3 linked regions of the Homo sapiens genome follow. The protein of the gene in region 3 purifies or fractionates together with the protein of the main gene of each other region. This does not show direct contact. Each region holds a gene or a part of one and is shown on either strand. Other genes may lie near its edges.

Region 1 (4,419 bases), on a different chromosome or scaffold from region 3:
CCTCTGCGCAGAAGTAAAATTGCTTTGCTGAAAATCCTTTGTTTGAATGTTCAATTTCCTTAGGATTTTGAGCATTATTTCCAACACAACAGTACTATTAATATAAATGTTTCTCAATCAAATTTTTAAATAATTAGACTTGGCCTACCTCACCTTTGTCCAGGAGCCCTCTGTCTGGCTCTATCTGGGCTCTCTGGATAGGTGACAAAAATGAACTGAACAAGGTGGCAACGTGAGGAATGTGAAAACTTCAAACACATTCCAAATACTTTCAGTTAATTAACAAGATTTGCAGCTATTAAATTATGTACGTTATGTGAGTATAGTCAGAACACTGAGTTACCCATGATGGAGGACATGAAACCACTTTAATCCTTCACACAGGGCCAAGACGGTAAGTAAAGTTAAATATATGCTGAACAGACTATCAAAATGTTCCTAAACTTAATAAGAAACTGCATTCTACCTATTCTAGGCCAGATAAATTTTTTATATCCCTCTAACGGATACAATAGGCAGCTACGGAACTACTCCCAATTTGGCAAGATCCAGAATTTCCTTTAGAGGCTCTGGGGCCAAAGCCCGAGGCCTACTGCCCTTTGCAAGGCTCCAGATTTTAACCAGCAGATCAGTAAGGTACCAAGCCGACTCATAGCAATGATAATAAGTATGCAGGCCGGGTGCAGTGGCTCATGCCTGTAATCCCAACAGTTAAGGAGGCTAAGGCAAGCAGATCGCTTGAGCCCACGAGTTTGACAGCAGCCTAGGCAACATAGCAAGACCCCGTTGCTACAGAAAATACAAAAATTAGCCGGGCGTGGTGGCGCTAGCCTGTAGTCCCAGCTACTTGGCCAGGGATGAGGTGCGAGGATCATCTGATCCGGGGAGGTTGAGGCTGCAGTGAGCCATGACCGTGCCACTGCACTCCAGCCTGGGCGACAGAATGAGACCGCTTCTCAAAAAAAGAAAAAAAAATCGTTTGTGCAATGTTTTCATTACCGGAAACATTTTAAGTAAAATACAATAAAACTTTTAAATCTGGTTGTCAGACCCTTCCTTCCCTTTTGTTATTATCGTTTCACGTAGCCATTTATGATAGGAGAAGCGGCTTTGGGGTCGGCGGCTCAGGGCCCAAAAGTATAATTATTAAAGCCACCTCTCCGGAAGTTGCTGTTTGTCGTTATCAATTTAGGTACGAAGTGTCCAGTCAGATAAATACTGACAAAAGCAAACAAGATGAAGAACATGAGCCCCGACCTCGGCGCCCCTTCCCAGTGGGCCGTCACCTACCCGGAGGTGCCCACAACCCGAGTGAGACCTCGGTCTACACTACTGCAACGGATACAAGCAGCACGCACAGCGCCGCCCTCAGCGCTGGTTCGTTTTCCACGTGGAGGCGCAAAACCAGCAAGCACCACTGTCGCACCATCCGAGCCAGTGGGCGCAATCATGTCCGGCGCGACCAATCGGCGCCTGGCTTGTTGGCAGGTGTCAGGCAGCGCGCACTGATTGGCCGGTGCGGAGCCTGTCTCCTTCACTGGATCCCGCATTTTCAGCGCGTTGCATCACCTCCGTGCGCCCGGTTGCAGCGTGGACGCCGGATGAGTTGCTTTTAGGCTTGCTGGCCCGCGGGGCTGTCCAGGCACGCGAGGCCCCTCAGGTACGCCCTCTCTTCCCTGCAGGATCCGGCCCTCAAAGACGAGGGTCACGCACGCGTTACAACCCCGAAACAGTAGCACAAGATTTAATTTTTAAAAGAGCGTGTTTCTTCGGGGCTTGCCGTTCGTTCGTTTCCAGCCTCAGGAATTTATGGTCGCCTTTTTGAATGAGGTAGTGTTTGAAATGAGTAAAATCTTTTTAAAATGATATACATAGTATAAATTGATATAGCTGTGACTTTATGTATAGGCAATACGTATTTTTATATGTCTTAATTTATTACCTTCAATGGCTGCGAGATACTTATTTTATTGATGTACCGTAATTTACTTCAGTCACCATGAATATTTAGATTGTTTTCAGTTATTTGCCTGGAGAAACAATTATTCGGTGAATGTCATTGTATACACATTTTGTACATTTGCATGAGTATACCTGTGGAGTCTATGTTAATAGGATATAACTAAATTGAGGAAACGTTTGAGACGGTCCCACTTTCAGGTTACATTTGACTTAATAGATTATGAAGACCTGAGAATAAAAGGAGAAACAGAAATGGATTTAGAGGAGAATGAAAAGGGGGAACAGAAATAGGCTTATAGGTAGGATCCACATGACTTGATGATTAATTGGTTGTGTGTATCTTCTGAGTAGTGTCAGGGGTGACTCAAAAATGTCATGCCTAAGTAATGGGAAGAATATTGGAACCACTAATACAGTAGTTTAAAAGGGAAGCAATTCTGGAAGGAATTATGAAATTTTAAACAAAACATGGTTTTAGTGTGCGTTTCTAAAATATATTGAGGCAAAATAATATGAAGTAATGTGAATAATATGTAGTTAATATCAGGGAGGGTGGTCTCGAAATTGCTGAACGGGAAGTTGAGGTTAAGGTGACCTGAAGGAGTTGTGGAGCAGCGAAGAGTCAAGGGCCTGGATTATAATAAGAGGGAAGCAAAGGGGATGGCATCCCTCTGCACAACAAGGTTGTTGTGCAAGGTTAACCTGCTCTGTCCCTGCCCTGTGGTTGCTGGATGCTGTTGTGCATGGACAGCTCTCCAGTGGATTCGATGGGCCATAGCAATCCTGTGATTTATGCATGGAGGCTGCTTCTCCTCAGCAGCTGCCATAGCCCGGTCGCTGGTACATGATTCTTCCTGAATAGTCAATGCTGTTATACTGAGTGTTTATGCTTGACGTAATAATGCAGTGATTCTTAATCTTTGGGGAAAGTAGAGACTCCCTAAAAAACACAGTAAAAGCTGAATGAGCTGGCCAGGCATAGTGGCTCATGCCTGTAATCCCAGCCCTTTGGGAGCCCAGGGCAAGAGGATCGCTTTAGCCTAGGAGTTGAAGACCAGCCAGGGCAACATGGCAAAACCCTGTCTCTACAAACCACCCCCTCCCCACCAAAAAAAAAAAAAAAAAAAGCTGAGTGTGGTGGTGCACACCTGTAGTCCTAGCTACTTGGCGGGCTAAACTGGGAGGAACACCTGAACCCAGGGAGGTCAAGGCTGCAGTGAGCCATGATTGTGCCACTGCACTCCAGCCTAGGTGACAGAGTGAGCCACTGTCTCAAAAAAAAAAAAAAAAAAGGAATGATCCTCTTCTCAGAAAGCTTAAATCTTATTTTCTCAAAAATAAAAATTCAGATAGATATTCCTGAATAATTGTTAGAACAGTGCAAGAGTGGTGATGTTCAGACTTTGATGTGAATGCTCATCCCCTAGGGATCTTGTTAAAATGCAGGTTCTGACTCGTAGGTGCGAGGTGAGGCTGGTAAGTCTGCATCTCTAATAAGCTCCCATAGATGTGGGCCATAGTAGGACCAGCCTTGAAGAGATTAGAATGTGTTGGTATCTAAAGGTCTGTTAGTCTTCAGATAACAATCCCATAAGTTTCAGTTGGCCTCTGATAAGGTACACAATGAACCTAAATAAATCAGTAAATGCACAAACACTTATTTTGGTCCTTGAAAGGCTAGAGGTTATAATAAGAGTTGAAGATCTAAAATGCCTTAAACCTTCTGTTTAATACCTTTTAATGGCATACTGTGATCAGAAATAGCTATTTCAGTTAGTTAAACAGCCCAACTGTTCTTGTCCTGTTTTTTCTTAAATTAAACTCAGAGGCACTCACACATCTGAAAAATTAATGAGGGTAAAAGAAAATGAAAGATACTACTTGTCACAGACTTTTTTTTAAATGATAACTTGAATCAATAACTTGATTAGACTATGATGCTTTTGATGCTTTCAAAACTGTTTGAGGTATGTAGGTGTCTTTTCCTGTAGAGTTGATTACCCTGGTCTGTTGTGGTTCTTGAGTACTTAAGATTTTTTATCTTCTCTGTTGTTCCCTTATTAGCAATTTTATCCCCTTCTGATCTGATACTGACTTGGAAAGCTCGTCACCCACCTTGTTAGAATTGTTAAGTAAATATAAATAGACTTTGAGAAGGAAAGGTCTCAAGGGTGGCTCACTAGATACTTAAGTCATAGATTGATCAAGTATCTCTGCATGAGGTTATTAGCAAAACATTTAAAAAGACACTTTAAGACTTCTCTCATTAGGGACTAAACCAGAAAGGTATAGGGCTCATCCTTCATAAAAATCATGAATAAGCAATAAAAAGGGTAAAATGGAAAACTGGAATCTATATTTGAATGTGAGATTCTCATCTTTTTAGCTTTAAGATTTTTTAAGTTTTACCAGTTTTCCTCAAAGAGAAGATGAAGTTACTTCAAGAGAACTGATTTC
Region 2 (3,649 bases), on a different chromosome or scaffold from region 3:
GAAGATGTCAGCCACAGTCTGGGGCTTAGAACCTAGGCAGTACCTGGTGACAGGCAGGTCTTCGTTAGGCACATATGTAGGCTACTGGGGGATCACATAGGCATCAGACCGTATTATCACCCTCCTTTTCTCCACCACGTTCCCAAACCATTGATCCAAAAGGCCACTACATAACTACCCTGCTTATTGAGCACACGCTTAAAATGCTTTAAAAGTTTCCAGCAGTCTTGTTAAGTAGAATTCTTCTCACTTCAGGTTTCATGATCTAAAGTGAGCATATACCAGTCTAAATCCTAATATTTACTAGTAAGCTCCACTTAAAAATGTATCCCAAACTACGCCATCACTCCTATCATCACTGTGGTCTGAATCACCTAGACCTCTTGCTTGGACTGTGGGAGCCTCCTGACAGGCTCTTGCCACTGACTTCCTAACAACCCAAGGTCCACATAACAACCCAATTAACCAGTCTGATTGTGAACACACAGCCTTGGCAATGGCTTCTTGCAAAACTCAGAGAAGCTCAATCCCTCCCATGGCCTGTAAGATCCTTGACGATACAGGTCCTGCCACCCTCTCTGACCTCATTTATCACTGTCCCTTCTGGTCACTCTGCCTCGCACTGCTGTTCTCTCTGGACACTCCCCATGTGCCTGTGTGGCTTACTCTGTCTGAAGAGGTGAGATGCCTTCCCAAACCACATCATTAATCACAGTCCCTCCTCTCCTTATCTAGGCCCTTCCCTGCTTTATTTGGTTTTTCAGCACTTCTCAACATGTGTCAATTGTCCTGCAATAAGAGCATGTCCCAGACCAGGCACAGTGGCTTACACCTATAATCCCAGCACTTTGGGAGGCAGAGGCAGGTGGATCACTTGAGCTCAGGAGTTCAAGACCAGCCTGGCCAACATGGCGAAACCCTATCTCTACCAAAAATACAAAAAATTAGCCAGGCATAGTGGTGTGAGCCTGTAGTCTCAACTACTCGGGAGGCCAAGGTGGGAGGATCACTTGAGCCCAGTAGGCAGAGGTTGGGGTGACCCATGATCATGCCACTGTACTGCAGCATGGGTGACAGAACGAGACCCTGTCTCAAAGGGAAAGGAGGAGGGAGGCTGGCCTGGTTCTCTGCTGATGCCTCCTCTACCACTGCAGCAATGTAGGTACTGTGAGTGCTTGAGTGAAAGTTTGGTAGAGGAATGGACTTCTCTCCCACAGAATCTCTTATTTCCCGGTTTTCCTCACTCAAGTTTTGTTACTTCCAATCTATATAATCCCAGATGAGCAACATAAAGTCCCTACATTTAATAACTACGAACCCATTAACAAGACCCAAGTCTGCCAAGATTATTAAACTGAAGTCACAGACAAGACTTGTTTGCATACTGCTGGAATGTCCCCAGTATGTTGGGTTTCTGGTTTGTAACACACCATTTCAGGATGCAGCCTCTGGTAGATGAGTAAATGCCATGATTTTGCTGTTTACAGCCCTTTCTGGAATTCAGTAATTCTCAATCATGTTCATTAACAAAGACTCAAAGTAAATAAAAACAGTAACTTACTTAAATTCTTCTTGTTTCTGTTTCTTGTAGTCTTGTCTATATTTTGTAAAGGCATCAAATAAATGATAAATAATTTCTGCACTAAAAATTCTAACTCCTAAACTATCAGCCATTTCTTGTGCATCTCGTTCAATTCTCACATCGAAGGCCAAAATTACTGCATACCTAAAAGGTTAAAACACATCAAAGACCATTCAGTGAAAAACAGAGTATGTCACAGAGGACAGTTTTTTAAGATAGGACAGTTTTAAGATAGCTACGTAACATGAAAGCCTTCATAGCAAGAGAAATTACTTACTGAGGGTCATGTTCCAACATCACTGAAGCCTTCATAACATCTTTTTTATGCACTGGGCCAATGTTAATTCCTGCATACTGAAAAAATGGGAGTTTCCATGTTTATCTGTATGTATCAGGTAATGGCGATGGCACCAAAAACCACGACCAACCACCATTCACTTGTGGAGCGAGTTGTAGTTACTTACGGGCACTTCTGATGTTTTCAGAAATTCCAGTAGAGCTTCCAAAGAACCCAGTGTAGATGCCTGGACATAGACTCCTTTTTCTTCTAATTTGATAGCATTTAGTGTCTGCTTTAACTCATGGATCAATTCATCCTTGAAAAGAAATCAGATTTGATAAGGTTGTCAACACACCTCTATCCTCAGCAGTCTAGAATTAAATTGTGTTTCTCTCTTTGGTTAAGTACTCATCTGCAAATATGAAACTAAGGCTTAGATAGAGCAAGGCATCACAGAACCTGTGCTGGAATGAAGGAGGAGATTTCGGGGCCATACCCTAACTGTATTTCGCTTCACCTTTGTCTTAGGTTTACTAACTTTGAAATATGTTTAATCTCCGCTCCACTTGGCAAATACAGTAGATGGGTGGGCAGAATTAAACAGTAGAGAAGAAAAATTTTTTTAAAGTTAAAAAAGTACCACATAAACGTAATGTGTTATGATAGCCCAAAAGTTCAGCTTGTCTGTGTTAACTAGGAAATACCATAATCTCATGATCTCAGCAGCTCCTTCCTCCATCACTGCTTGTCGGGAAATGGAAGAAGAGATTTTTAACCAGAAATAAGTAAAACAAGTTTATCAATGCCACTGAAGGGACGTAAGTCCACTCCATACTCAGGACTGGGTGAAGAGACAGGCCTGCCCTATTCTCTCACTGGCCCTAAGATAGCTTATTCCCAACAGCATGACTTGATGCTGCCTAAATAATAAACACGGCCCCAGGACACAAGAGCCATGTGCTGGGAACAGTTGTATTTTCTCTTTGGCAAATGAACAAACTATGGCTCAAAGTCCACTTTTATGAAACTACAATGGACATGGGCCAAAAAGAATATACAATTTCTAGCTTTTTTTTTTTTAGACAGGGTCCTGCTGTCACCCAGGTTGGAGTGCAGTGGCACGATCTTGGCTCACTGCAGCCTCTGCCTCCCAGGTTCAAGTGATTCTCCTGCCTCAGCCTCCCAAGTAGCTGGGACTACAGGTGTGCATTCACCATGCCCAGCCGACTTCTAGCTTTTGACTCATTTTTTTATTTGAATAAAATGCATTATTTTTATAATTCTAGTACATATAAAAATTATACCAATTTCTATGATTGTACAAACTGAAGTAATTCAAAAGCATCAAGTTTGCTAAGAGGCCAAGAAATGGCAGGCTTCACAAAGACAAAGCCAGTTTTGGTCACCATCCCTAGCATGTGCAATGCTGACACATGCCAGAACTCAAATAGCTTTTAAGGAAAAAAATTTTTAAATGAACTTACTTTAAGAACAGGGATTTCATCTTCTTTATAAGCCACAAGGAGGGGTAAACCAGCCAATGTTTTCTCCAGGTCTTTTCCAAGAATCTTTACCCCCTGAGCTGCTTCTACTTCTTTATGCTTTTCATACTGGTTCTACAGAGATAAAAACATTTGTTACCAAATGTACTTTAAAAGTGGTTAGCAGTAGAAGATGATATAAGAGAATCTCATCATGATATTAGAGAGAGGTTTCTTAAACGAGGCACAAAAAGCAATAATCACAAGACTGATAAATTTAACATTAAAATTAAATATTTCCATTTC
Region 3 (3,649 bases):
AAAAAGTAGCTGGGCATGGTGGCAGGTACCTGTAGTCCCAGCTACTCGGGAGGCTGAGGCAGGCGAATGGCATGAACCCAGGAGGCAGAGCTTGCAGTGAGCTGAAATCATGCCACTGTGCTCCAGCCTGGGCAACAGAGTGAGACTCCGTCTCAAAAAAAAAAAAAAAAAAAAACCGTGGGCGAGAGCCAGGCACGGTGGCTCACACCTATAATCCCAGCACTTTGGGAGGCTGAGGTGGGAGGATCACTTGAGCCTAGGAGTTCAAGGCCAGTCTGGGCAACATAGTGAGACCTCTTCTCTATAAAACATTTTTTAAGAATTAGCTGGGTGTGGTGGTGCGTGCCTATAGTCCTAGCTACTCGGGAGGCTGAGGCAGGAGATCACATGCCCAGGAGGTCAAGGCTGCAGTGAGACATGATCATGCCTCTTTTTAACTGTACTCCATCCTGGCGGGTAACAGAGCAAGACCCTGTCTCAAAGGAAAAAAAACAGGAGAAAGATGTTGTGAGAGATGGTGTATGGTAGGAGAGCCTCCATAGAGCTCCTTTGACCACATGACAGTGGAGTTATTATTCCTGTACGCTGTCATTACAGAGCGGTGGATCTGAAATGCATTACTTCTGGCAGTATGTTTTTTTCTTTGGAGTTGTTGGAATGCACTTGCGTCTGATTATGCTTTGTGTCCGCAGGCTCGTTTAGAAGTGCACCGGTTTGGTATCACGGGTTATGGAAAAGGAAAGGAGAGAATCCTGGAACAGGAACGTGCCATTATGCTGGGCGCTAAGGTGAGGGGCTGCTGCTACCTTTCATCACTAGACAACATGCAAAAAAAGCAAGAGCAAGGAAAGCTAAGAGCAAGTCAGGGCAAGGGACACTGGAACATTTTTGCAGAATAAAATATGATGGTTTGTTTCTTTGTTCTTTCATTACAGCCTCCTAAAAAGAGTTATGTGAATTACAAGGTTTTACAGGAGCAAATTAAAGAAAAAAAGGCAGCAAAGGAAGAAGAAAAGAGACTGGTAGGTGTGATGGTCTGTCCTTTATTCAACTAGAATGGGAAGATGGATGCTCTTTGCCACAGTGGAATGCCGGAAGCCGCTGCTTGGAGAGCAATGAAGGCACCAGAGTTAAAGGATCCCATGCTCCCCATTTCTTCGAGTTAGCTCTGTTTAGTAATACCAGCCAAGTAATCTGGCGTACTTACATGCAAGATTTGCTTTGAAATAGCAAACTCCTTGTCTTAGTCCGTTTTTGTTGCTGTAAAGGAATGCCTGATGCTGCGTAATTTATAAAGAAAGGAGGCTGATTTGGAGCATGGTTCTGCAGACTGCATGGAAAGCATAGCACTGGCATCTGCTCGGCCTCCGGTGAGCATCTGAAGCTGCTTCCGCTCATGAGGGAAGGCAGAGGGAAGCCCATGTGTACAGAGATCACATGGCAAGAGCGAGACATGAAAGAGCGAAGCAGCAGTGGGGAGAGGTGCCAGGCTCTTTTTAACAAACAGCTCTCATGGGAAGTGGGAAGTAACAGAGGGAGAACTCACTCATTACCATGAGGACAGCACCAAGCCATTCATGAGGGATCCATTGCCATGACCCAAACACCTCCCACTAGGTCCCGTCTCTAATGTTGGGATCAAATTTCAACCTGAGGTTTGGAGGGTCAGCTATCCAAACTATAGCAATCCTGTTCCAATAATGCAGGCTACTTTGATCTTTCTTCTATACTTAGGTTTTTTTTTTTTTTTTTTTTTTTTTTTGCATTTTACGTTGTATAACCTTGTATACAACACAAGGGCCTATGAAAAACCACAAGGGGAATAGATGTTACACTTTCTACCTTTCACCTAAAATGGAAGATTTGAGCTTTCAGTGTAAGACTATTAGTCTTACCTGGAATAGCCATTCACATTCTTTTGTCTTTTTCTTTCTAACTGAGACAGGATCTTGCTGTGTTGCCCAGGCTGGTCTTGAACTCCTGGGATCAAGTGATCCTCCCCCCTTGGCTTCCTGGAGTGCTAGGACTATAGGCATGAGCCACCACGCCAGGCCCAGCCTTTCACATTCTTGAAAGGGTTTTAGGGTAAAACTTTGAGACTGTTATGTTTAATATGCCCACTTGAAAGAAATGTTAAAAATGGTATCTCAATGACTTTTGGTCACAAACCTCTTGCCTTTTGTTTGAATCCCATTATCCACTACTAATATGTATATGATCTTAAATTCTGAAATCAGGCCCAAGAAACAGATATTTTCAAGAAAAAGAAGAGGAAAGGACAGGAGGACAGGTGAGTGATTTTATCAGGTCCTGGGGTTGAACAATCTGGATGAACCTACTGATGAGTTCTGACAAGGACGCCTTGAATGTATGTGGTGTTGCTAGCCCATTAGAGCGCTTCACTGTCTCTCATTTATCCTTGTCAAAGTAGGATTTAGTAAACTGCCCAAGATCAAACAACTGCCTGAGAACTGAATTAGGAAGTTTCTCCAATCTTCCACTTTTCACCGACACTCTAAGTGACTAGTGGAAAAGCTGCAGTTTACATTTCCAAGAAAAGACTTCTAAGAGTGCTGCTACAGCAGCGTAGTCTGGGTCTGTATAGCCTGCTCTTTGACATACCACGTAAGATAGAGCACCGTAATTATGAATAAGGGATGTTGACTTTGTTGCTTTATACTTGTTTGTTAGCTTTTGTTCAAATGCCTTTTTCTCTGTCTTTGAGTTACTGTTTCAGAATGGACTCTTTTTGTCTTAGCCTGTTTTCTTGGGCTCCTAGTGCACTTGTACATGCTGTAAAATGGTCATTTGTTCTGGCCACCGATCTGTATCTGTTGAATGCCTCTTTGTGCCAGGCATGTGGGTGTCTTAGGTATTGGTGTACAGCTGTAATCACACTAAAGATATCCCTGCCCTTGAGGAGCTTCATTGTAGGGAGAGAAACACCCCAAAACATACAAATGGATAAGTAAGATGATATCAGGTACTGGCAAGTATTGTAGAGAGGCTGAAAGAGAGCATTGTGAAGGAAAACCACAGGGAGAAGGTGAGCTGGGAAATTAGTCTGAGGAGGTGACATCGGAGCTGAGAACTGAACAAAGAAGAGGGGCAGCCTGGAAAGAGCTGGTAGCAGAACATTCCTTGCAGAAGAAACCAGTGCAAGGGCCCTGAGGCAGGAAGGCAGTAGCATGTTTCAGGGACCACAGGAAGGCGTATGGGGTGGGGGGTGTGCATGGCAGGCGACCAGGAGTTTGCAGGCCAGACTGCAGTGGCCTGGTTGGTGGTACTGTGATGCTTGTTGGTAAGCTTGACTATTTATAGTACCTTTCTCTTACTTTAAATGTAGGAAATCCAAAAAGAAGTCCGCTCCCAGTATTTTGTCAAATGGACGGATTGGACAGGTTGGAAAATTCAAAAATGGAACACTGATTCTGAGCCCAGTTGATATCAAGAAAATAAATTCTTCCAGAGTGGCCAAATGAAGTACTTTGTCAAATAAAACGAGGATGGGAACAACTGAGTCAACTGCAGCGGCCCTGGACCCTGTGCGACTCTAGATAGATCGTTCTTAACACGCATTTCACAGACTGCTTTTTCATTTTAGAAAAAAAGTCAAACAGAAGTAACATTTCTAGTTGCCGAAGTGTCT

Evidence for each region.
Region 1: the proteins of FSAF1 (region 3) and IARS1 purify together in Homo sapiens (affinity purification with mass spectrometry, with the first as the bait; one study listed by BioGRID). This does not show direct contact.
Region 2: the proteins of FSAF1 (region 3) and EIF5B purify together in Homo sapiens (affinity purification with mass spectrometry, with the first as the bait; one study listed by BioGRID). This does not show direct contact.

What each region holds. Positions count from the first base shown.
Region 1 is NC_000009.12:92,290,852-92,295,270, reverse strand, and holds the start of IARS1 (isoleucine--tRNA ligase, cytoplasmic), read left to right. Parts: upstream 1-1,573; 5' UTR 1,574-1,660; exon of another isoform or gene 1,661-1,830; intron 1,831-2,677; exon of another isoform or gene 2,678-2,813; intron 2,814-4,348; exon of another isoform or gene 4,349-4,419. UniProt on the Homo sapiens protein: Catalyzes the specific attachment of an amino acid to its cognate tRNA in a 2 step reaction: the amino acid (AA) is first activated by ATP to form AA-AMP and then transferred to the acceptor end of the tRNA.
Region 2 is NC_000002.12:99,392,796-99,396,444, reverse strand, and holds part of EIF5B (eukaryotic translation initiation factor 5B), read right to left. Parts: intron 3,479-3,649; coding exon 3,347-3,478; intron 2,179-3,346; coding exon 2,047-2,178; intron 1,937-2,046; coding exon 1,860-1,936; intron 1,727-1,859; coding exon 1,562-1,726; intron 1-1,561. UniProt on the Homo sapiens protein: Plays a role in translation initiation.
Region 3 is NC_000001.11:231,224,112-231,227,760, reverse strand, and holds part of FSAF1 (40S small subunit processome assembly factor 1), read left to right. Parts: intron 1-692; coding exon 693-788; intron 789-935; coding exon 936-1,022; intron 1,023-2,237; coding exon 2,238-2,290; intron 2,291-3,346; coding exon 3,347-3,482; 3' UTR 3,483-3,649.